2 separate regions of the Homo sapiens genome follow, and region 2 is linked to region 1. The links come from fine-mapping of genetic effects on gene expression. A gene starts in region 1. The other region holds a variant in brackets. All regions are shown on one strand. Distances are from middle to middle. Region 1 holds the start of KMT2E-AS1 (KMT2E antisense RNA 1). Region 2 overlaps SRPK2 (SRSF protein kinase 2).

What was found. PIP is the estimated chance that this variant, and not a neighbour inherited with it, causes the effect. A credible set is the group of variants that fine-mapping cannot tell apart.
Region 2: its variant is the best candidate, but not a certain one, in a credible set for the expression of KMT2E-AS1 in whole blood (INTERVAL, PIP 0.81).

Annotation. Positions count from the first base shown.
Region 1 is chr7:105,006,791-105,018,924 of GRCh38, reverse strand. It overlaps KMT2E-AS1 (KMT2E antisense RNA 1), which reads left to right and starts at 4,784. Exons shown (of 1, transcript NR_024586.1): 1 at 4,784-8,383. It overlaps KMT2E (lysine methyltransferase 2E (inactive)), which reads right to left and starts at 4,720. Exons shown (of 27, transcript NM_182931.3): 1 at 4,390-4,720. RefSeq lists enhancers at 4,401-4,630, 4,891-5,010, 5,331-5,380, 5,172-5,711, 5,801-6,170 and 1 more and silencers at 4,691-4,780, 5,131-5,180.
Region 2 is chr7:105,319,638-105,331,771 of GRCh38, reverse strand. The region is part of intron 2 of SRPK2 (SRSF protein kinase 2); the gene reads left to right. Among named protein-coding and RNA genes, the nearest start is that of SRPK2, 63 kb to the left of the region's middle. The variant G/A (reference allele first, on the strand shown) is at 6,455.

The sequences.
Region 1 (12,134 bases):
TAGCAATTGCAAGATTTTTAGTTAAATACCATCCACTTCCAGTTTAGTGTAGAAAACAATTTCAACAACAAATACTGTTCCTCCATGTTAAGTAAATTTGTAGGTAATACAAAAAATTATTCTTTCAATGTCAAGAAAAAAATAAGGCTCCTCCCAACATCTGCACATTACAGAACAGGTAGTAAATACGAGCCACTTCAATTTTAAACCCAGCCTAAAAGCCAGTAACATTCACAGAGTAATATTTCAAATAGTATTCCACTCGTTAATTTGCCAGTCAACATAAAAATTAATTTTACCATAAAATAATTATATTTTCAATATTAAAAAGTCTCATAGATAATCTATCATGAAATTGGGGGAAACAAGTCTCACAGAATACAAGTATTTAACATTTATTCTAACACATAACAGGGAACAGTCCCTGATCACCCTACATATTTGAGATGTAAATGTGTTTGCTTCAATAAAAGATTCACATCCAAGAAATAATTAAGCACCTACCATCTGCTAAAAACAAATCCTTTGGAGATAAAAGCTTTTACACATTATTAAAATATTTTTAAAATAGTAAACATAAAATAGCATCTGTTGAGAAAACTGCATACTAGTATTTCCTAACCAGTTTTGATAGCTCTTCAAAGTTCTGTTAGTTTTACACATTTTAAACACACTATGGTTGTACACATTTAAGTCCCAGTAGTAGTAGCTTCCAGAAATGCAGAGCTGTTAGGGTTTACATAAAACACACCTTTAAAAATTAAACCACAGGTTTCTTTAGAAGATTGATGAATGAAAACGAGTACATTATTCTTGGAAATTAAGAAGCCAATTTAAGAAATTATAATTTCCCTAAGACCACTAAGATATGTACTGAGGGGAAATTTTTCTCCTATTAATTAGCTTTTCTCCCTACTGCCTCAATAGACTCAAGAAGTCCTAGAGCTTACTGGGGGCATATATGGCAATGATTTCTCTCTGGAAGCTGTGAGGAAGTCAGACGAGCCAAAATTGTAGGGCAGTTATCAGTCTTACAGAGTTGACGGGAAATGGAGACCTGTCAAGGCTCTACACTTAAACTGGAATCAGAGAGATCCTTTCATTTACACTGACAACGAAAGGATGTATGATCAAAATGTAGGCTCTAAAAATAAAATTAACTCTCCAATTACATTATAGTTCTCTACAAATCCACTTAAACAGATAAACAACTAATCCTTCAAACTCAGCTATCCTAGAACAAAGACCATTTGACTAGTTTCCCCCAAGGAACCAAATTCTTTCAAAACTCTCTGGGAACAAAAATTATGCCTAACCTTCTAATAAATTTGCCTAGACAATCCTAACTTAAAACACACATAGTAAATTAACAAAAAACAAACAATTATAGCCTCGTGATTTATAAAGTAACCATTCAAAATAAGGTACAATACTTAAAAAAAAAAAAAGCCAGTATCATTTTACAGGAACTAAAACATCAAAAAAAAAAACAAAAAACAAAAAAAAACCACCCACCACCACCACCAAAAAGAAACAAAACCTAAAGCAATAAAGCAAGCCAATATGAAGAAAGCTAGTAAACTGAAGACAGCTTTTCCTATAATTTCTAACTTGGTATTTTTCATTTGAAGCCAAATAAGTTCAATTGCTTTGTCTGTCTAGACCTGACCAAGGTCTCTATGAAGAAAACCATCGGGCACAGGCAGTGTTCCCTCCTATGGCCACATAAATCAAATTTTTAAGAATACACTGATTTTGTATATTGAATAGTAAGTTTAAAGTACCAAGCTTCTGAACCACAGACCTTAATCACCCAGCCTTTAAAATAAATGCACAATCTTTACACAGCAGTGAATGATCTGGACTTAAATACTTGCTCAGATCAAAATACAAATGAGTACTGACCCCAAAACCCTACACAAATTTCGCCCACTACCCACCAACATTTCACTTTATAATAAAATATTTCAAATATTCTAAGTAAGGTTGTGTGCTCAGTCTTCCATGATGAAGCTCACTGGTATGTAGAAAATCCTTGAGCCAGTTATTTCTCTAATTATTTCGTAGGCTAGAACCTTATCAACCTAGTTGATACAGTCACCATATGAAGTAAATGCTGCTCTAAAATATTTACAATGGAATAAAAGAATCATGAAACAGTGTATACTCTTCAACCTTTTAAAGTACTACTGGATTGAAAAGCACTCATCTTTCCGTTGCTCCACAATCAGAATGGTCATTAAATGTCATTAATGGCCCACTCACATCTCACTGCTTAGTTCAACCCAAAAAGAACTCCCACTACGAAAGTGAATTCTAATCTTTCACACTTTAAAAAATTCAGTTAAATGACACCTGACACCATTTAATTTTCAGTCTCAGTCTGTAAGTTTCTGAAAATAGCATAAAATGGATTCAAGACCCTATTATGGTAATGTTTTTATTTAAGGTCTATTAAAACAGACTAAATTCCACAATCCTATAATAGGTAAATGGGCATATTTGAAGAGGAAAAAAATCCAGAATCGGAGCCTTACTTTTAACTTACATAATGATGATAGTATGCTGTAAGACGATTGTTAAAGGCAGCATGAAGCTTCACTTTACCAAATACACAATAAACTTTGAAAATTCTTAAGGAAAGCTTAAATACATGGGAAAAATGGATGGCAAAATATAATGGCATCTCTACACCCAATGAAGTAACAGGTTTAAGCTTGTTTGTACAGCTCCCTAAAATTTAAGCTAAAACACAATACAAAAACCAAAATCCACAAAATGGGTCAAGAGGTGGTTGGGAAATGTCTTACTCTAGATTGAAACATTTAATCATATAAAATAGATGATACTTATACAGTTACTAAACATTTTAATCTACTTTGGCATATTGAATAAAAGATGGTTGGATTAAACCAAACAAAAACTATTATTGGTACCCAAATAATTTTTTTTTAATGTTGAAGCGCACCCATCATCACCACTGAAATTTGCAAGGCTGTTTTTTTTTTTCAAAAGTGGAGACATTTTATTTGCCTTTCAGGAAAAACGAATCAAATTAATCAGCTAAAACACAGCACTGTAATTTGCAGTAAAAAATCAACACATTTTTGTAACTGGCTCGGGGAAGGAAAAACAGCCCAGTCTTTTCATGTAAACATAATAAGCCTGTAATATGCTGCAGACAAACGCACTGCATGGGGTGTGGAGGACCCGAGCTGATTAGATTACCACAACATCAGCCTGGGGCCGCCATTTTTAGAATCTGTAAAGGACAAAAGAGGGAAATTTCAGTTTTTACTCCCCATCTCAGAAATTGAAGGAAAAAAACAGACTATTTTCCAAATAGGTATTCATGTCTCCAGCCTCGAGTTGAATGCACCTCACTTAATTCTCTCCAAGGTCTCCAGAACTCCAAACACCTTACCTTATTCACATCTCTAAAAAGGGAACAAAATAGGCAAAACGAGGTTTACTCTAGAGCTAACTCTAGCGATTCCTCTTTGACTTTAAATTGTATCGTTCTTAAGACAGAGCCCAGCAAGGACGGATCTATACGGAACTAAGGCCAGTAGAAGAGAGCACTCTGGATTGTTTTTTTCTCACCCCCACCCCGTTTAGCACAGTGAACCGTTTGTTTCTCATCTGTGTCTGCTGCCATAGAATTTGTGCCAATCCCTTGGTCAAAATAAGCTTTTCTGAAATGAGCCATATTGTAGATCCTAAGGCTCCGGCACAGTAAAGGACGGCGGTAATGCAAAAGGAGTGGGGGAGGAGACTGAGAAGGCTGGGTACTGGGGTGACCACTTCAGGGGCGGGTTTACCCTCTCCAGGAGAGGATGAGGAGCTAGCTGTCTCGCTCTCCCACAAAGAGAGATGCCCAGGGCGTTCTTCTTACCCCCTTCGTATTCATGTGCACATTATACCAGAGACTGCCCGTCAAGAAATGGAAGAAGAAAATGGGGCCTATATGGCTTTTCAGCACCTGAACAAGACGCGGTTGAGAAAAGGGAGCGCTGGCAGCTCCTGGGACCACTTCGACACAAACCCTACTAACAGTCACAAGCCTCCGTCTTCACTCAAGCGGCCTTAACCCGCTGCCAATGAGGAGTGCGCCCCCTCCCTAACTCCCCCACTCTCAAGGGGGTTTAACTGCCAGTTACCCCTTTCCCAACCCTAAAACCCGCCATAATGCTCCATTTCTAGGGTCAGGGAGAAGAAAGAATAAATTCGATTTAAGCAAGCAACGTCTTGCGCCGGCAAAGACACCTGAGAGTCAACGTCGGCTCCCCCAGCTTAAGGATAAAGATGAGAGACCTCCCTCCCCCTTGAAACACAAGTACCCCAACCCCGCAAGCCCCAGGAACTCCCATGGAGACGACAGGCACTAACCTGTGATGTTCACACACGAGACACCCGAACCCCGTTATGTGCTCGACCCCCAAGGAGTCTCTCCGCACCTCCGCGAACAGGCGACCCCCCGACAGCAGCCACTGCGGACACAGGACCCGGCTCCACACACCCCCTCCCCAAACAGCAGCGCGCAGCCTCTTCACCAGGAACCGAGGAGTAGGGGAGGGGGCAGCCAGGCAGTCAACAGGAACGCAGAGACGACGGCGAGGCTGCTCGGAGTGTCTATGCCCACTCTGTTGCCGCTCCCGAACTCCGGCACGGTCTCCGACTCGGCCCCCTGCGCCCGCTCAGTGTCACTGCCTCTCGCTCTGGGAAAATGGCGGCGGCGGCGGCGGCGGCCGCGGCGGCGGCGGCGGCGGCGGCAAGTGCACGGGGTACGCCCGTCCCGCTCCGCAGGGGCAGAGGGGGAGGGGATGAAGCTGCCCGGCGCCATTTTGCTTGTGGGCTGCCGCCCGCCGTTGCCTCTCCGCGGAGGCTCGAAGATAGCAAACTGGAGGCGGTGAGGGGGACGGAATCTCTGTCTTTCTGACAACAGATGCATTCAACAATCCACCGAAGGTTTGAGGAAGTGTCGGTATTCGGTGGGACTGGTTCTTTCCCCCTTTCCCCCAGTGGCCCTCAAGTCTGGATATAGGTGAGCTTGGGCATGCCAGTATTGGGTGCACGAACAAGGACAGCAGGGCTTGGGAACGAACTCCCTCCCGTCACCCTCCGAAAGCGATACACCTTCTCCCCCTCCCAAACAACCCCAGTCCCGTCTCCCCGTTCCTCTCCCCCTCCTCCCCCAGCCCAGTCTGGCCTCCAGCGCTGGGTGAACCCGGTTGGGGTGTCACTCGACGCCCACTAGGGGCTGAGGAGGCTCCAGTGCGCAGGCTCCGGGCACCGGATAAAAGCGGAGCTGGCGAGTCTAGTGCTGTCTCGATGGAGGAGCAAGAAACGGAAGAGGTCGGGGGGAGAAGCAGCCGGAAAAATGCAGCCACCGTCAACGCCGCCTCCCTGCCACCGTGCTTCGGGGTAAAAAGCTGCCGTTGCCGTCGGTGCAGTTGCCGTCGCTGCCTCCTATACTTCTCTTGGCCTCGGGGAAGGATTTCCCCACCGGTGGGACAATGTGCGGGGAGGGGAGTGGGAATTCCTTTATATGGCGGTGATTAAACGAGGGAGGGACAGACAGTGATCTCGAAGAAAAAAGGGGGAGACCAAAGAATAAAAGAAGGGTTTCCCCACTAAAATGACACGGCGATTCCGGCTCTTGTTTTGGGGGTCTTTCCCCGAAATGGTTTCCGTCTTCCCCTTGCCCCGCAGCGACCCAGAGCGCTGGGGGAAGCGGAGTGGGGAGAGGCAGAGGCGGTCTCGGCAGCCAATCAGCGCCTGATGTGTCCTGTCGGGCGCGTCGTGGTTGGCTGGCGATGACCTCATCCTGCAGCAGCGGGTGGGGCCAAAGCCGTAGGGGGAGGCTGTTGCAAAGGTAGAGAGGGAGAAGTGACGATGGTGATCGTTGCTGCCGCGGCCGATATGGAACCCAAGCAGTGGCGAAGGGAATCGCAAGGCTCTTCCCTGACCATTTTCTACTGTCCCTGCGCGAGGTGAGGGCCCCGGCTCGGCCTCTGCAAAACTTTGGGGCGCTGGCGCGGAGGAGGAGACAGGATTTCTCCCGTGACTTTTGTAACTGCGTCAGGGCAAGATGGCGCTGGGTCTCTTTGGGGCGCGGGGGGAGAGGCACGTCCACCGCCGCAGCGCATGTGACCGGGCTGCATTCCTGTGGGGTTTGGCTCCGACCCAGGCCGGGGCGGGGGAGGGGACAGGGCTTGGGCGGAGGAGACTGTGGTGCGGTCGGCGTTGGCGGCCTGAAGAGGAAGAGATGACTGTTGGAAAGCGTTCCCCTCCCCCATACGGCAGAACAGCTGCGGCTCCCAGGGGAAAGCCCCCGCAGGACAGTCCTCGTGGGGTGTGACGGCTGTTGGTGGAGAAGGTTTGGCGCCCTATTTTCTTATCTGCCTTTCTCCCCGCAAAGTATACTTATGTAAGGTGGTAGTTCCCTGACGTGGGACTCGGAATCAACTAGGAGTCCTTGAGGGCCTCTGGGAGGCCTAGCGAGGGGTAGACCAGCTTCTGGGGGTACAACGTCAAGGAGGATCGATTACTTTCTGAGGAAACAGTTTCTCAGATTGAAATAGAAAAGTATTTCCAAAGTTTGGAAACAAATTTAAAGGTGTAAATAACACCCAGGAACACTTTAATTGCTTTGAAAAGGCATAAGCAGCCATCTGAATTTAAGGGCCCTTTTCAGACTCTTCCTTCCTCCTGTGATTCCTGTTCTTTATTTCAGTTTTCTGTCTGTACATCCCTTAAGAATATAGTTTTGTCGGTGGGATTCGCTCTTTTGTGCCCAGGCTGGAGTGCAGAGGCGAGATCTCGGCCCACTGCAACCTCCGCCTCCCCGGGTTCAGGCGAGTCTCCTGCCTCAGCCTCCCAGGTAGCTGGGATTACAGGCGCCCACAACCACACCCTGCTAATTTTTTCTATTTTTAGTAGAGACGGGGTTTCACCCCATTGACCAGGCTGGTCTCGAACTCTCGAGATCCGCCCGTCTCAGCTTCCCAAAGTGCTGGGATTATAGGCATGAGCCACCGCGCCGGGCCTGCTTTTTTTTTTTTTTTTTTTTTTTGCACTGGGCATTAGTAATACGGAATAAAAGCCGTGTTTTAAACTGTATTAAGTTGTAAGACTTTTCAGTACTTTCAAGTCTGCTTTCTTTCTGTTGCCCTTTTGTAGTTTTTAAAAATAAAAGATGCAATTATAAGCACTTCCGGTGAATATTATTCCTTAAGGTTCCTGCATCATCATGAAATTTGAAGCACTTTTATAGTAGTACAAACTATACTTTTAGCTTTTGAAATCTCGATAGGAGAAAATATCCAGCAGTTTTAGGGGCTATTTTGGCATATTCATTAAGGTAGACTAAGTTTGTTTTTCGTTTTTCCCACTTAGCCAAACTAGTTAAAGTAGTCAAAACTAGCAAATAATTTTTAAAGGGCTTCTCCTTTTGGGTGGTGTAGAGGGTGGGGAGTTATTCAACAAACACATTTGCAGCCAAAATCTGGCCTACTTCTTGGCAGAGCGCTTATACTTGGTGCTACGAGAAAATGATTGCTGGACCTGAAAAGAACCTGAGGTCAAGGTTGTGCTATTTCCTTAAGTCTTAGTTGTAGGCTCTTGGTAGTTTGAAAACAAGATTGGGTTTTTAATTCATTTGTGTATCCTTAAATCCTCACTAGTTTTTGTGGATTTCTTTTTTCAGTTATAAGCAACTGAATGTGGATGAGCTATAAATATTTAGTACAAAGAATGTAATTTGTCCACTCTGAATAGAAAGTAAGCATTAAGAACTCTTGAATGTCTTCAAGGGTTACTTTGTTACGTGTAAGATGTCTCCCCTTCCTTCATAGCAGTTTTTATTCCTGCTTAAAAAGGGAACTAAATATGAAGTCAGTAGATTTTAAGGTAATTTTCAGAATGTTTCTACTTTCACCGTGCCTTAATAAGGAAAAAAGGCCATTTTCCAAGCGAATGGAAACACCCTTTCCTTGTTTTGTGCCTTTAATCAGCGTGTACCTTCATTGTTCCTGATTGCCAAATCCACGAACTTCTTGAGCTCTCAATTTTTCTTGACTTTCCTATGGCATTTTAAATACTGTTCATACTTGGAATTACTTTTCTTTGACTGCCTTCATACATTCATATATTCTGCCTGGGCAATTTCATTTGGGCCTATTATGTTCCAATACCTCTCCAATTTTCACCTCCATCTTAGCTCTGCCAGCTTCAGTGCCACAGGTAGGCAATGTAAAAGTTTACTGGGGACCACAGGCTTTCTGAGCTCAATAAAAATACTAAGCTTGGTACTTGTTTTTTAAGAATTTTCTTCCCCCATCCCCTCACAAAGATTATTTGAGTAAATTACACCCCAACCTCCTTTTCCTTGTTTTTGTTGAAATTATTGTCTCTTAACTTTGGAACATTGCAGTTGCGGTAAGCTTACTAGGTTCACATAGCATATCTTCTGGTGTGTTAAAATTAAAATGCACACCATCTCAAAAGTGCTATGCCATTTCATACCTTTGTGCTTTTGTCCTGCTACCTGGAGTGCGTCTTTCTCACTTCTGGATAATACAATTTGAACCTTTTCTTTGCCTCTTGAAACTGCAAAATCCCTACTCGCAAGTAAATGTGTCATTCTTTATGTTGATAACCCAGCCTAGTGCTTGACACTTGATGGGCATTCAGGTATACATGGTTTTTTAGAGATTGATAAGATTAACTGTGCAGTCTATAAACTGTAAATACTGGCTTTTAAACTCTTTTAAAGGAGCTCTTTTGATAAACAATTTGGATAAGAGATGAAAGGTTAGGGAGGCTCCAGGCAAGGCAGAAGACTGCTGATGGCCCAGAGATAGTTCTGCCCCAAAAAGGTGGGAAGAAGAAAAAAACTGAGCTGGATATTTTTAAGGAAATATATTTTATAGCATTTTTCTTTAATGCCTAGTTTTGCTGCAAGCACTGAAGTTTATCCTGCATTTGTATTTCTTATTTGAAAAAGAAATGGCCTTTGGGGTTTGTTTTGTTTTTTGTTCCTTTGTAAGCACACTGCAAAAGCGGCGTTGTCAGCGTTGTCTTTTGAGGTATCAAACGTGCTTTCAGTCAGCAAATATCTTGTATATAGTACCATTCCTAATAAACTAAATTGGTTATCAACCTAATACAAACGGTACTTCATACAACTTAAGCCTAAACTAGATTAGATTATGTAGAAACTTATTCTTAGAGAATATATCGCCTTAATATTTCTTATCCTGAAAAGAGTATTTCTTAAGTGCCCCTCTCAAAGTATATCGATTAATATTTGTCTCAAATTTAAAACTATATCCTGGTTTTTCCCTTACAGTTGTTTAGCAAGTAAATGTTTACTTACTAATTTATTTTCTCCCAGACTTCATTCTACCAGTTTAAGCTTAGCTCAGTTTTGTTTTTTGGTTTTGAGAAGGAGCTTTGCTCTGTCACTCAGGCTGGAGTGCAGTGGTACGTTCTCAGCTCACTGCAGCCTCCGGCTCCTGGGTTCAAGCGATTCTCCTGCTTCAGTCCGTGAGTAGCTGGAACTACAGGCGCACACCACCACGCCCAGCTAATTTTTGTATTTTTAGTAGAGACAGGGTTTCACCATGTTGGCCGGGCTGGTCTTGAACTCCTGACCTCAGGTGATCTGCCTGCCTCAGCCTCCCAAAGTGCTGGGATTATAGGCGTGAGCCACCGTGCCCATCCTAAACTTAGCTCAGTTTTAATGCTACTTCCATTTCTTTATGTATAGTTTGATGTAAGAATAACAGTTGGAAGTAAGGATTTAGGAATAACAAGAGTTTGGGATTTTTGTTTTTTTAATTAGCAAGGTAATGCCACATCAGGTCATTAGTGACATTAATGAGAGAACAGGGGAATTATTGGAAAGTCTTGACTTAAGGCCAGACGAGAAATCCTTAACTGCTAGTGTGACTTCCCTCCCCACAAAAGAGAATGCTCTCGTAATACACCGAACTGTTGGATGCTGTTGTATATACTTTATATATAATCTTACCCAAGGTGGCAGAGCATTAACTTTAACATCTGTCTCCCTGACCTCACCAGAGTTCATAATCTTTGCCCTACTTACACTGTCTGAAGGATGACTTGGCCTTTTTTTTTTTTTTTTTTTTTTTAATTGAGACAGAGTCTTGCACAGTTGCCCAGGCTGGAGTGCAGTGGCACGATCTCGGCTCACGGCAGCCTCCACCTCCTGGGTTCAAGTGATTCTCCTGCATCACCCTCCCCAGTAGCTGGGATTACAGACGCTTGTCACCGCGCCTGGCTAATTTTTGTATTTCGGGGTTTCGCCATGTTGGCCAGGCTGGTCTCGAACTCCCCACCTCAGGTGATCCGCCCATCTTGGCCTCCCAAAGTGCTGAGATTACAGGCATGAGGTGTGGCACAGGACAGAGAAAGACTTACTTTAAAACATACCTGTCTTCAACCCAGAAGAGACTGGCTTTTAGAGCCCTCAATGTAGCAAGAAGAGCCTGAATCAGAGCAGGAGTGATAAAGAAGGAATCTAAGTTATTACAGAAACATCCGTAATTGTTGCCTGGGTGGGTATAAGGAAGAAGAAGGAATTGACTTTCAAGAAAAATAATTGACATTTGATAGTCTTCACAGATAAAAGCCAAAACAGGGTAGATTCAGTCTTAATAGGAGACAAATTTAGCAAGAAAGCTGAGATCTTGGGTCGGTCTACATTTTAGGCCAAGGAAAAGGAACTGATTGCATTTGTTTTTTAAGATAGATTATACGCCAGTGCATAACATATTTAACCTAAGTCTGATTAGCTTTATAATAATTTTTAAATTATTCATAACTATCCTAAGCAATACCTTTTATTGTTAGATTATTATGTAATGCCCACAAATGATAGATAGCATTTGAAAGTAATTGCTGGCTGATTATAGGCATGGTGGCTTATGCCTATAATCCCAGCACTTTGGGAGGCCAGGGTTGGTGGATCACATGAGGCCAGGAGTTCAAGACCAGCCTGGCCAACGTGGCAAAACTCTGTCTCTACTAAAAATACAAAATAATTAGCTGGGCGTAGTGGTGCACATCTGTAATCCAGCTACTCAGGAGGCTGAGGCATGAGAATTGCTTGAATTGGGGAGGTGGAGGTTGCAGTGAGCTGAGATCGCACCACTGCATTCCAACCTGGGGGACAGAGTGAGACCCTGTCTCAAAAAAAAAAAAAAAAAAGGAATTGCAAGTAGCCTGTAATCCCAGCACTTTTAGGAGTCCGAGGCAGGAGGATCACTTGAGACCAAGCTGGGCAACATGATGAAACCCCTGTCTCTACAAATAATTTTTTTAAAATATTAGCCAGGTGTCTGGCACACGCCTGTAGTCCCATTTACTTAGGAGGCTTAGGTGGGAGGATCACCACTTGAGGCCAAGAGATCAAGATCAGCCTGGGCAACATAGCAAGACCCCCACCTATAGGAAAATAAATCCGAGCGTTCCAAGTGTTCAGCTATTCACCCACTTTAGGTTTCCACCTTCCTTAGAAAGTAGAGTAGTATAAATTATTTCTGAAATTTGTGAAACGATGTACCACATAACCCTCTCAAACCAGGTTGCTACTACTTCCAATGACTTCATTGATAAGGGGCAAAGTAACTCGAATGATGGGTGAGCTCATGACATGGTTTAGCTCCGTATCAAACTCTGGATTTGGGAAAATTGCTACTGATTTATTAAACACTTGAATTCTTATATGCTAGGTCAGAATTTGGCAACTAAACTCTCAGAAATTTGTAAACTTCCTTTTTACATAGAAAAGTGAATCCAGGCTGGGTATGGTGGCACGTGCCTGTAATCCCAGCTGCTCAGGAGGCTGAGGCATGATAATTGCTTGAACCTGGGAGGTGGAGGTTGCAGTGAGCCCAAGATTACACTGCTGTACTCCAGCCTGGGCAACAGAGGGAGGCTCTGTCTCAAAAAAAAAAAAAAAAAAAAAAAAAGTGAATATACTGTACTGTAAAGCCTGTGCACCTCTTCATCACACATAATTGCCTGTACATTATGCCCAGTGCCTGGCCCCTATTGGATTTCTGACAAGCTTTAATGTTGTTAGGTTAAGAGAGAACCTGTTCCTC
Region 2 (12,134 bases), 310 kb before region 1:
ATGTGTCTTTTCCTCTAGTACTTATTTATTGCAACTTTCCGTACACTTTTTGTGCTATTTACTGTGTTTTCCGGTAGATTTCAGTTCTGTGAGGTGAGGGCTCATATGTGCTTTATTCAAACTCTGAAAAATCAGGGCCTAAGCACAGTGTGTGAAATGTCGTATGTATTTAAAAAGTAGTTATTGAAGGAGTGAACTTTGCAAAGGTTTAAGTTTTGTATGTCAGAACTCCTTTAAGTTTACTATTCATCTCTCTTGTCTCTTTACTCAGAAATTATTTTTTCTCCTTCTCTCTCCCAAAGCCAGGATATGGTTTTAGGATCAATAGTTTATGTTATGGATTATTTTTTATTTGTAACTCTTTGATATATCTGAACTTTTTTGTTGAATATAGTGTGAAATATGATCCAGATTAATTGTGTAATAACTATTTGTTTTTTTTTTTTTTTTTTTTTTTTTTTTTGAGACGGAGTCTCGCTCTGTCGCCCAGGCTGGAGTGCAATGGCACAATCTTGGCTCACTGCAACCTCTGCCTCCGAGGTTCAAGTGATTCTCCTGCCTCAGCCTCCCACGTAGCTGGGATTACAGTCATGCACCACCACACCCAGCTAATCTTTTAAAAAAATATTTTTGGTAGAGATGGGGTTTCACCATGATGGTCAGGCTGTTGTCAAACTCCTGACCTCAAGTGAACCACCTACCTCGGCCTCCCAAAGTGCTGGGATTATAGGCGTGAGCCATCGTGCCCGGCCTTCTTTTTTTTTTCTTTTAATTAAGACACAGAGTCTCGCCTTTTGTCACTTGGGTTGGAATGCAGTGGCAGAATCACAGCTCACTGTAGCTTCAAATTTCTGGATTCAAGGGACCCTCCTTTTCTCAGCCTCTTGAGTAGCTGGAACTATAGGCATACACAGCCATGCTGGCTAATTTATTTTCTTTTTCTTTTTTTTTTAAATAGAGACAGGTGTCTCACTGTATTGCCTAGGCTGGTTTCAAACTTCTGGCCTCAAGCAGTCCTCCTGCCTTGGCCTCGGAAAGCACCTAGATTACAGGCAGGAGCCACTGCACGTGACCCTCTTGCCACCACTTTTTAATCTTAGTGTTGCTGGCATGGGTGCAGTTTTAGAATCCTTCTTACTGTAAAGTATGGATGCCCTTTTAATCTAACAAATTATCGAATTCATTAATTCTAGTAGTTTCAAATTAATTTCCTTGGGTTTTCTAGGAAGAGTCATGTCAGTATTAAGGCGAATGTTTATTTCCCCTGTTGTTAATGTTTGCTACTCCTGCTCTCCTTTTTTCCCAACCATTATAAAGATTTCTAGCTATGGAATGAATAGAAATGGAGACAGGAGTCAATTCTTATGTTGTTACTGGTTTTATTTTATTTTTATTTTTTATATTTTATTTTATTTTTATTTATTTATTTATTTTTGAGACAGAGTCTCGATCTGTCACCCAGGCTGGAGTGCAGTGGCGCGATCTCGGCTCACTGCAAGCTCCACCTCCTGGGTTGACGCCATTCTGCCTCAGCCTCCTGAGTAGCTGGGACTACGGGCACCCGCCACCACGCCTGGCTAATTTTTTTGTATTTTTAGTAGAGATGGGGTTTCACCGTGTTAGCCAGGATGGTCTCAATCTCTTGACCTTGTGATCCTCCCGTGGCCTCCCAAAGTGCTGGGATTACAGGTGTGAGCCATCGCGCCTGGCTATTTTATTTTAATTTTTAATTTTTTTGAGACAGAGTCTCGCTCTGTTGCCCAGGTTGGAGTGCCGGGACGTGATCTCGGTTCACTGCAACCTCTGCCTCCTGTGTTCAAGCGATTCTCCTGCCTCAGTCTCCCGAGTAGCTGGGATTAGAGGTGTGTGCCGCCACACCCGGCTAATTTTTGTATTTTTTTTTTAGTAGAGACGGGGTTTCACCATGTTGGCCAGGCTGGTCTCGAACTCTTGGCCTCAAATAATTTGCCCGTCTCGGCCTCCTAAAGTCCTGGGATTATAGGCATGAGCCACCATGCCGGGTGTTCTTAAGCCACGGAGATGAGCCCTTTCTTCTGTTTTTCTACAGGAGAAAATGGGGAAAAATGCTGAATTGGGTGTCACTTCATTTTCTGTACCCTTTCCCATCTTCTGCTGCTCTTTGTTCTGTTTCCTAGCCTTCTATTTTTTTTTTTTTTTGAGACGGAGTCTCACTCTGTCGTCCAGGCTGGAGTGCGGTGGTGCGATCTCGGCTCACTGCAGCCTCCACCTCCCAGGTTCAAGTGATTCTCCCCACCTCAGCCTCCCGAGTAGCTGAGATTCCATGCGTTCACCACCATGCCAGGCTAATTTTTGTGTTTGTTTCCCAGCATTCTTAGTTTTCCCTGCTCTTTCTGTTTCAGAATCTTAACTAGGTCTGTCTCAGTCCTTGAGGTCTTCATCTTCTTTTAATACCCACTCTTCTCTTCCTCTCAAAACTACCTTATCCATCCACATTAGTACATGATATTTTGTTATCTTCTTTCATTTTTCAGATCTATTTGTATTTTAGAAAAGAGCTTTCTTTTAGGGTGAGAGAATAAATTAGATGACTAATAGGCAGTGTGACATGGTGAAATATATAAAGATTCAGGCAATGTGGGAGAAAAAAATTTGGGGGAGGTGGTTAAAACTGGCCCTATAGATCAGTAATATGTAAACTCTTATCTCACATCTGAGACTGGAACTTGCAGTTCTTATTCTGTTTACTTATTTAAAAATATTTATTTTATTTTTTAAGGGATGGGGTTTCGCTATGTTGCCCAGGCTGGCCTTGAACACCTGGCCTCAGGTGATCCTCCCACGTCAGCCTCCTGAGTGTCTGAGATTACAGGTACATGTCACTGCATCTGGCTGAGTTTCTATTAAATTTTTTTTTTTTTTTTTTTGGAGACAGAGTCTCACTCTGTCACCCAGGCTGGAGTGCAGTGGCACAATCTCGGCTCACTGCAAGCTCTGCCTCCCAGGTTCACACCATTCTCCTGCCTCAGCCTCCTGAGTAGCTGGGACTACAGGTGCCTGCCGCTATGCCCGGCTAATTTTTTTGTATTTTTAGTAGAGATGGGGTTTCACCGTGTTAGCAAGGATGGTCTCGATCTCCTGACCTTGTGATCCACCCGTCTCGGCCTCCCAAAGTGCTGGGATTACAGGTGTGAGCCACTGCGCCTGGCCTTTTTTTTTTTTTTTTTTTTTGAGACAGAGCCTGGCTCTGTCACTGAGGCTGGAGTCAGTGGCCTGATCGCAGCTCACTGCAACCTCTACCTCCCAGGTGCAAATGATTCTCCTGCCTCAGCCTCCTGAATAGCTGGGATTACAGTCGCCTGCCACCACACCTGGCTAATTTTTTGTATTTTTAGTAGACACGAGGTTTCACCATGTTTGCCAGGCTGGTCTCAAACTCTTGACTTCAAGTGACCCACCCGCCTCGGCTTCCCAAAATGCTGAGATTACAGGTGTGAGCCACTGCCCCCGGCCTTTAAAAAGTGCTTTAAAAAATACATTGGGCTGCATATTGATTTATCACTCCTTCCACTCTGCAATCTACCCTCCTGCCCTGATCCATTTTGGATGCAGTTGGGGATTTTGATTGGAGTGAGCCCAGGGATAGAGTCATTTGTATGTCTCCCCTGGAAGTCTGATAATCTGTATTTTTGGTATCTTCTAGAGGAAACTCCTATAGGCTGGGCATTGTGGCTCACGCCTGTAATCCCAGCACTTTGGGAGGCCAAGGTGGGCTGATCACTTGAGGTCAGAACTGAAACCCCGTTTTTACTACAGATAGAAAAATTAGCCTGCTGTGGTGGTGGCTTCTTGTAGTCCCGGCTACTCGGGAGGCTGAGGCAGGAGAATGGCGTGAACCTGCGAGGTGGAGCTTGCAGTGAGCCGGGATCACGCCACTGCACTCCAGCCTGGGTGACAGAGCGAGACTCCGTCTCAAAAAACAGAAACAAAAACAAAAAAACTCCTATAAATTTTAGAGTTGTTTAGATAAGCTAATCTGTATTAAGTATCTTGTGTTCTTTCATTCATTCAGCTAATATTGGGCACCTACTATAAATGGGCATTGCTAGGCCCTGGGGATGTAGTAATAAACCAGGACATGTGGGCCTCACCCTTCAGCATCTTGTTATCTTGTTATCTGGCTGTGGAGTCAGATGTGTAACAATTAATTCATCTCAAAATGGGGTGTAAAGTGGTGGGAGAAGTATCAGGTGCTAGGGGAAAGCTTCACCTGCACTTGGCAGGGAGGAGAGAGGTCAGGATGCTGGCCAGAGGTACAAAACCAAGAGATTGGCAGTGGTTAGCAAACTTCTTCTGTAAAGGACCAGATAAATAATTTAGACCTTTCAGGCCAAGTGACCTCTGTTGTAACTGCTTAACTCTGCCATTGTAGTGTGGAAGCAGCCATGGACCATAGATAAACAAATGAGCATGATTGTGTTCCAATCAAACTTCGTTTATGGACACAGAACTTTGAATTAACTAAGAATTTTTAGGTGTCATGAAATATTCCATTGATTTTTTCCCCAACCATTAAAACAAAAATGTAAAGGCCATTTGTAGGTCCATATGTTCTAACAAATACAGCTGGCATGCTGTAGCTTGCAGCCTCATGGAATATGCTGCTAAATTGCTCATTATCGGGGCTCTTTTGCTTATACCTTGAATTTTTTTTTTTTTTTTTTTGATACGGAGTTTTGCTCTTGTCGCCCAGGTTGGTTGGAGTGCAGTGGCACGATCTCAGCTTTATGCAGCCTCCACCTCCTGGGTTCAAGTGCTTCTCCTGCCTCAGCCTCCTGAGTAGCTGGGATTACAGGCTCCCACCACCACTCCTGGGTAATTTTTTGTATTTTTAGTAGAGACCGGGTTTCACCATGTTGGTCAGGCTGGTCTTGAACTCCTGACCTCAGGTGATCCACCTGCCTCCACCTGCCAAAGTGCTGGGATTACAGGCGTGAGCCACCGCGCCCGGCCACCTTTAATTCTTTACAAAAACACTTGCCATGTGGTAGACCTGTAGTCAGAGCATGCATTATGCTTTTAGCAGGAAAGAAATTTGTAGGCCGGGTTGAAAATCATAGTGTTTCTGTACCTCTAGCTGTTCTTTTGAAACATTACTGTAATTCTGGGCATTGAAAGGATGTTAGGATTTATGAGGGTGATTAATAAGTGGCATACATGCAGAGGGACTTGAATGGCATAATTGATAGTATTTAGAAGGCCAGTCATGATCTTGCCAATTATTCGCTGTGTAATATTGGGCAAATCAGTGCACTTCTCTGAGCCTTGTCTATCCATGAAAAAGAAAGTAAACTTGCTATAGTTATTTCTCAGGATTACTATAAATAATGGAGAAGATAATGTACTTCAAAGCAGTATGAAAAAGTTCTTTGTACTATGCCTTTCCGCAGCTTTCTTTCAAATTTTAAAAAGTCACTCTGGCCACCATATGGGGAATGGATTATAGAGTGGTAAAAGTGAAAGCTAGGAGACTAGAGAGCATGCTGTTGCAATAGTCTAGTTGGTGGGTTGTAATGTGGCTTGGCCAGGTGGTCTTAGTAGAGGAGATGAGGTGGTCAGATTAAGGACTTATTTTGAATGTAGAGTTGATTGGATTTAATGATAGGGTATGAATTAAGAGGAAAGTCAAGGATGACTTTTTAAACTTTTTACTGCCACACCTTGTTTTCCAGGATGATGGCTCTCCGCACCAGACCCGTGTCCCCGTGTGCGGTAGGGCAGTGTCCCGCCGGCAGGGGACCGGTAGCCAAGGCTATCCGAGGCCCCTCAGCATTGCCTTGTTTTTCCGCCTGGGCAGGATTCTGACTTAAGAAGCCTTCAGTCGTAGTCCCACAGATGGTAGCTTCACCCTGTTGGCTTCTCAGCCAAGCACATACACCAAAGAGACAGGGTCTTCTCTTGTTTAGGCTGGAGTGCAGTTGTGCGATCTAGGCTCACTGCACCCTTGACCTCCTGGGCTCAGGTGATCCCCCTGCATCAGTATCCCAGGTAGCTGTGACTACAGGTAGGCACTACTGCTACTGTGCCTGACTAATTTTTTAACTTTTTGTAGGCATGAGGTCTCGCTATGTTGTCTTGAACTCCTGGGCTGGAGCGATCCTCCTGCCTAAGCCTCCTAAAGTACTTAGATTACAGGTGTGAGCCACTGTATCCAGTTGAACTTTTTTTTTTTTTTTTTTTTGCCTTGAGAAACTAGGGGAAAATGATGCCATTAAATAATGGACATCATTTTTTTTTTTTTTTTTTGAAGACTTGGTTTCTAGTCTTAGTTCCTCATTAGGATGGCACGTGAACTTGTCTTGACATTTCTGTCTCTTGGTTCCTTTATGTGGACTGCATGACATTTACAGAGGGATCAACAGGGTTCCTTAGCCATACATACCAGCTCTTAATTTCACAAAGGCATGTAATAATC[G/A]CTTGTGACACCTTGTTAAAGAGCTAGAGAAATGTGTTTTATATAATTGTAAGCCTAGCTATTTTAACAGCCCTTCTCTGAAAGCATAGCCACTAGTTTCAAAGGTGCTCTTTAGTGGTGAGGTAAAATGCTTTCTTTGATTCTATTTTGTTAAATGTTTTCTTCATTGACTTGTGTGAAGACTTAGATCACTTGATTATTAAGTTAGTATGTTTAAGGATGTTGACTGCTGCCTTTCTGGGGGAGAATACAGTTGGGATTTATAAAAGCTTGCTTGAATGAAACTGCCTCTTAAGTGATTGTTAATAATGAATGGCTCCAGTTGACTTCTAATATACCTTCTGCAATTAGCATGGTGGATTTTACAATAGGAAAAATAGGACTATTGAGTATTAATGGTAACAGATTTTTTTAATTTTAATTTTTATTTTTTGAGACAGTCTTGCCCTGCCACCCAGGCTGGAGTGCAGTGGCGCAATCTTGACTCACTGCAACCTCCGCCTCCGTGGCTCAAGCAATTCTGCTGCCTCAGCTTCCCAAGAAGCTGGGATTGCAGGCGTGCACCACCACATTCGGCTAATTTTTGTATTTTTAGTAGAGACGGGGTTTTGCCATGTTGGTCAGGCTGGTCTGAAACTCCTGACCTCAAGTGATCCACCCGCCTCGGACTCCCAAAGTGCTGGGGATGGTAGCAGATATTGACAGTGCCAGGCATAGTGCCTGATGGACACTCTCACTAAAACAGCAACAGTCCTCAGCATTCTATGGGCCTACCAACTTTGCTTATTTGTATTGCACATTCATTAGCTAGATTTTCTGTTAAGAATAGTCTGGCCTGGTTGGGTGTGGTGGCTCACGCCTGTAATCCCAGCACTTAGGGAGGCCGAGAATTGTTTGAACTTGGGAGGCAGAGGTTGCAGTGAGCTGAGATCGCGCCATTGCACTCCAGCCTGGGCGACAGGGCGAGACTCCATCTCAAAAAAAAAGAAAGAAGGGAGGGAGGGAATAGTTGGCCCGGCGCAGTGGCTCATGTCTGTAATCCCAGCACTTTGGGAGGCTGAGATGGGCAGATCATGAGGTCAGGAGTTCGAGACCAGCCTGGCCACCATAGTGAAACCCCATCTCTACTAAAAATACAAAAAAAATATATATAATTACCCGGGCATGGTGGTGGGGGCCTGTAATCCCAGCTACTTGGGAAGCTGAAGCAGGAGAATCGCTTGAACCCGGGAGGTGGAGGTTGCAGTAAGCCAAGATAGCGCCATTGCACTCCAGCCCGGGCGACAATGTGAGACTCCACCACACACACACACACACACACACACACACACACACACACACACACACACAAAGAATAGTCTGACCAAAGTCTTTTTAAGGAAAGATAGTTTGAATCCTTCCAAAAATTTATTTTTCTTGAGCATACTTGAGTTGGTCTTTCATATCTGGAAGAATGCCTCCTTAGCTGAATTTTTTCACCCAGTTAGCTTGGGTCCACTACAGGAAAGATGTGAGTGTCATGTCCTCAAATTATTCTTACAGTGTTGATTATGTAGTACCATACCTTTTTGGAAATTACTGTGTTATTTCCACTTTGTTCTTCTTAGAATATTCACTCTAAAAGGCAAGAAACACTATTCCTTTATGTTTTGTGTTAGCATGTAGCATCTAGTACACTTTGGTGCTGAGTAAAGTATGTAGCAAGTAGCTGAGAAGAAAGACTTTTTTGTTTTTAACATTCTTAACAGTGCCAGTATTATAATTTTATTTGCATTAAGAGTCAGCCCTTGCAAAAGTAATAGACTGCCTACAGTGTCTCAAACACGGAATATGGGTAGGTGTTTTTAGAAAGATTCTATGTGGTTCTCCTTTGTAGTTGGAAATTTGAAATTTAGGAGGAAGTCATATGTTGCCTGCTATTTTCTAACATTGGTGAAGGTAATGCAGACTTGAATATTTGCCACTGCTTGGGTTTGCAGAAGGCTTTACCTTCATTTGTTTTTGAATTTTGTTAAGGAAGTTTTAGTGTATACTTTTCTCTAGCATTTTTGTCTCTAGCATAAAATTTCAATATTTATGTAAATGTATATTCTTACTGTTTCTTTTTGTAGGACTTTTTTTTTCTTTTTGGATGGAGTCTCACTCTGTCGCCCAGGCTGGAGTGTGGTGGCGCCATCTTGGCTCATTGTAGCCTCCACCTCCTGAGTTCACATGCCTCAGCCACCCGAGTAGCTGGGATTACAGGCATGCGCCACCATGCCCAGCTGACTTTTGTATTTTTAGTAGAGACAGGATTTCACCATGTTGGCCAGGCTGGTCTCCAACTCCTGGCCTTAAGTGATCCACCCACCTGGGCCTCCCAAAGTACTGGGATTACAAGCATGAGCCACCGTGTCTGGCTGGACATTTTTGATCCTGTGTTTTGTCTCCAGCTGCACCCAGGCTGTGAGCCAGGGAGGCTTTAGAGTTTTAGTGGGGACCATGGAGCTGTGGAGAGCATTCCTTGGCCGAAGTGGAGATTGTATAGACTAGCTAATAAGACATCTGTGCAAACTGTTTTTTTTTTTTTAATTGAGGTTATATTCACATAATATGAAATTCACCATTTTACAAGTGAACAGTTCAGTGGCATTTAATACATTTGCAATGCTGTGCAGCCACCACTTCTGTCTAGTTCCAAGATGTTTTGTCACCCCAGTAAGAAACTCTACCCATTAAGCAGCTGCTCCCTATTTCCCCCTCCCCCAACTCCTGGGAGCCAATATGCATTTTTGTCTGTGTTGATTTACCTATTCTAGATATTTCATGTAAATGCAATTATATAACACATGACCTTTTGTGTCTGGCTTCTTTCACTTTGCATGACGTTTCTGAGGTTCATCCATATTGCAGCATGGATCAACATTCAAGTCTCACTCTGTCGCCCAGGCTGAAGTGCCGTGTCACGATCTCGGTGCACTGCAGCCTCCACCTCTTGGCTTCAAACGATTCTCCTGCTTCAGCCTCCTGAGTCACTAGGACCCCAGGCACATGCCCCTATGCCCGGCTAATTTTTGGATTTTTAGTAGAGGTGGGATTCCACAACATGTTGGCCAGGCGGGTCTCCAACTCCTGACCTCAAGTGATCTGTCCGCCTCGGCCTCCCAGAGTCCTGGGATTACAGCTGTGAGCCACTGTGCCTGGCCCAACATTCCATTCCTTTTTATGGCTACATAGTATTTCATTGTATCTATACACCAGGATTTGTTCATCCATTCATTTGTTGGTAGACATTTGGGTTGTTTTCACTTTTTGGCTATTGTGGATAATGCTGCTGTGATCATGGGTGTACATATTATTTGAAGTACTAGTTTTCACTTCTTTTGGGTTTCTACCTATGAGTGGAATTGCTGAGTTGTATGGTAATTCTATGTTTAACTTTTTGAGAAATCTCCAGTTTTCATAGAAAAGATACCATTTTATATTCCCACCAGCAGTGTACAAGGATTTCAATTTCTCCACATATTTTCCAGTACTTGTTAGTTGTTGTTGTTGTTTTTAACTTTTTATCATTAGCCATCCTTGTGGGTGTGAAGTTGTGCCTCGTTTTTATTTGCATTCTCCTTATGAATGATGTTGAGCATCTTTTCATATTCTTGTTGACCTTTTGTATATTTTATTTGAGAGATTCTATTAAAATCTTTCGCTCATTTTATAATCAAGTAGTTTATTTTTGTTGTTGTATATATTCCAGGTACTAGATCCCTATCAGATTTGTTAATATTTTCTTCCATTCTGCAGGTTGTCTTTTCATTTTCCTGATAATGTCATTTGATGCAGAAAAGTTTTTAATTTTGAAGTTCATTTTACAGTTTTTTCTTTTGTTGTATGTGCTTTTTTGGTGTTATATCTAAGAATCTGTTGTCATACCCAAGGTCATGAAGATTTACCTGTATGTTATCTTCTAAGAGTTTTATGATTTCAGCTCTTATGTAGGTTGTTTGTCGATTTTAAGTTTATTTTTGTATAAGGTACGAGGAGGAAGGGGTCCAGCCTCATTTTTCTGCATGTGGATACCCAGTTGTCTTAGCACCATTTGTTGAATAGTCTGTTCTTTCCGCATTGAGTGGTCTTCATGTGCAGACTGTTATTGCTGTGCATGTGTATATCTGTTTATCTGGAATTCACTTTTAAGAACTGTATATGGGCCAGGTGCAGTGACTCACATCTGCAATCCCAGCGCTTTGGGAGGCTGAGGTGGGAAGATCACTTGGGGTCAGGAGTTTGAGATGAGCCTGTACAACATAGCAAGACCTTGTCTCTTCAAAAAAATTTTAAAAACTAGCTGAGTGTGGTAGTACCTGCCTGTAGTCCTACCTACTCAGGAGGCTGAGGCAGAGGGATTGCATGGGCCTGGAAGTTTAGGGCAACAGTGAGCTATGATCACACCGCCATTCCAGCCTGGGCAACAGAGCAAGACCTTGTCTCATTAACCCAGTTGTGCCTAGTGTTCCATTATTGGAACACTAAGCTTGTGGGAGTTATTTATATCCTGCTCCAGGTCATTGCCAAGGTCTGATTTTTCACAAAAAAAGTTTGCAACCTTCGGCATAAATGGGTTAAAAAAAGGAAAAGCTGTATATGAAGGTCTTTGGCCACAGTTTGGTTTTTGATGGTAGATAGGGTTTTGTCACTTGAATGCAAAATTAGCTTTATAACTATAACTTTGAAACTAAATGGCTAAATTATTACTGATTTTATTTTTATTTTTATGGGTCGCCTTACAAGATGTATTTAGTTTGCCTCTTGGTTTTGAGTACTGTGGAAATGAGCTTACTGGTTGCTGTTTCTGAAAATGTGTACTTTAACTTATTCTCAAGGTAATTATTGATGTGTTTTTAAACTGAAAAACACTGAAGAAATTTTATAGATAAGTTTTCTCCATATTTTGTTTCACATAAATTGTGTCCATTTTGAAGATGTAGTTCCTCTTTTCCTCTTCCAAATGATTAAACTGGTAAAATTTTTGTATTAGAGGAATTAAGGTGAGAGGTGCTGAGCAAAATATGAATCTTCCAAGGTTTATTCTTGTACCTTGTTAGGGATATGCGTGGGTGTTTGTGTGATTGTGAGAGAAACAGAATGTGTGTATGTGTCACTGATTTTTTAAAAGTATAGATGTTGCTTTATTATTTGCCTTAAATATATAGCAAAATCAACCTGTAGACAATGCACCTGAAGAGAAAATGTAACTGTGTGAAGATTTAATAAAGTGGATTGGTGGAAAGACCATTTTATTATTTGGAATGTTATTATTTGGAATGTTAACAGAAAAACTTCAGCTGAATTAAATTTAAAGGAGTTTAATTGAGCAGTGAACAATTCGCGAGTCGGGCAGCCCCAAGAATCACGGGAGATTCAGAGACTGCAGTGCAGCTATGTGGTGGAAGAAGATTTATAGACAAAAAAAAAAAAAAAGGGGGGGAAGTGATGTCCAGAACTCGGAAGTGAGGTACAGAAACAGTCAGGTTGGTTACAGGTCAGCATTTGCCTTAGCTGAACACAGTTTGAACACTCAGCAGTGTATGAATGGTTAAAGTACGGCTGCTGGAATTTGCCAGGACTCAGCTGTATTTACAGGCGCATACCCATAGTTACGTTTTTCAATCTTGTCTACCTGTTAGCTTATGGATCCTCCACA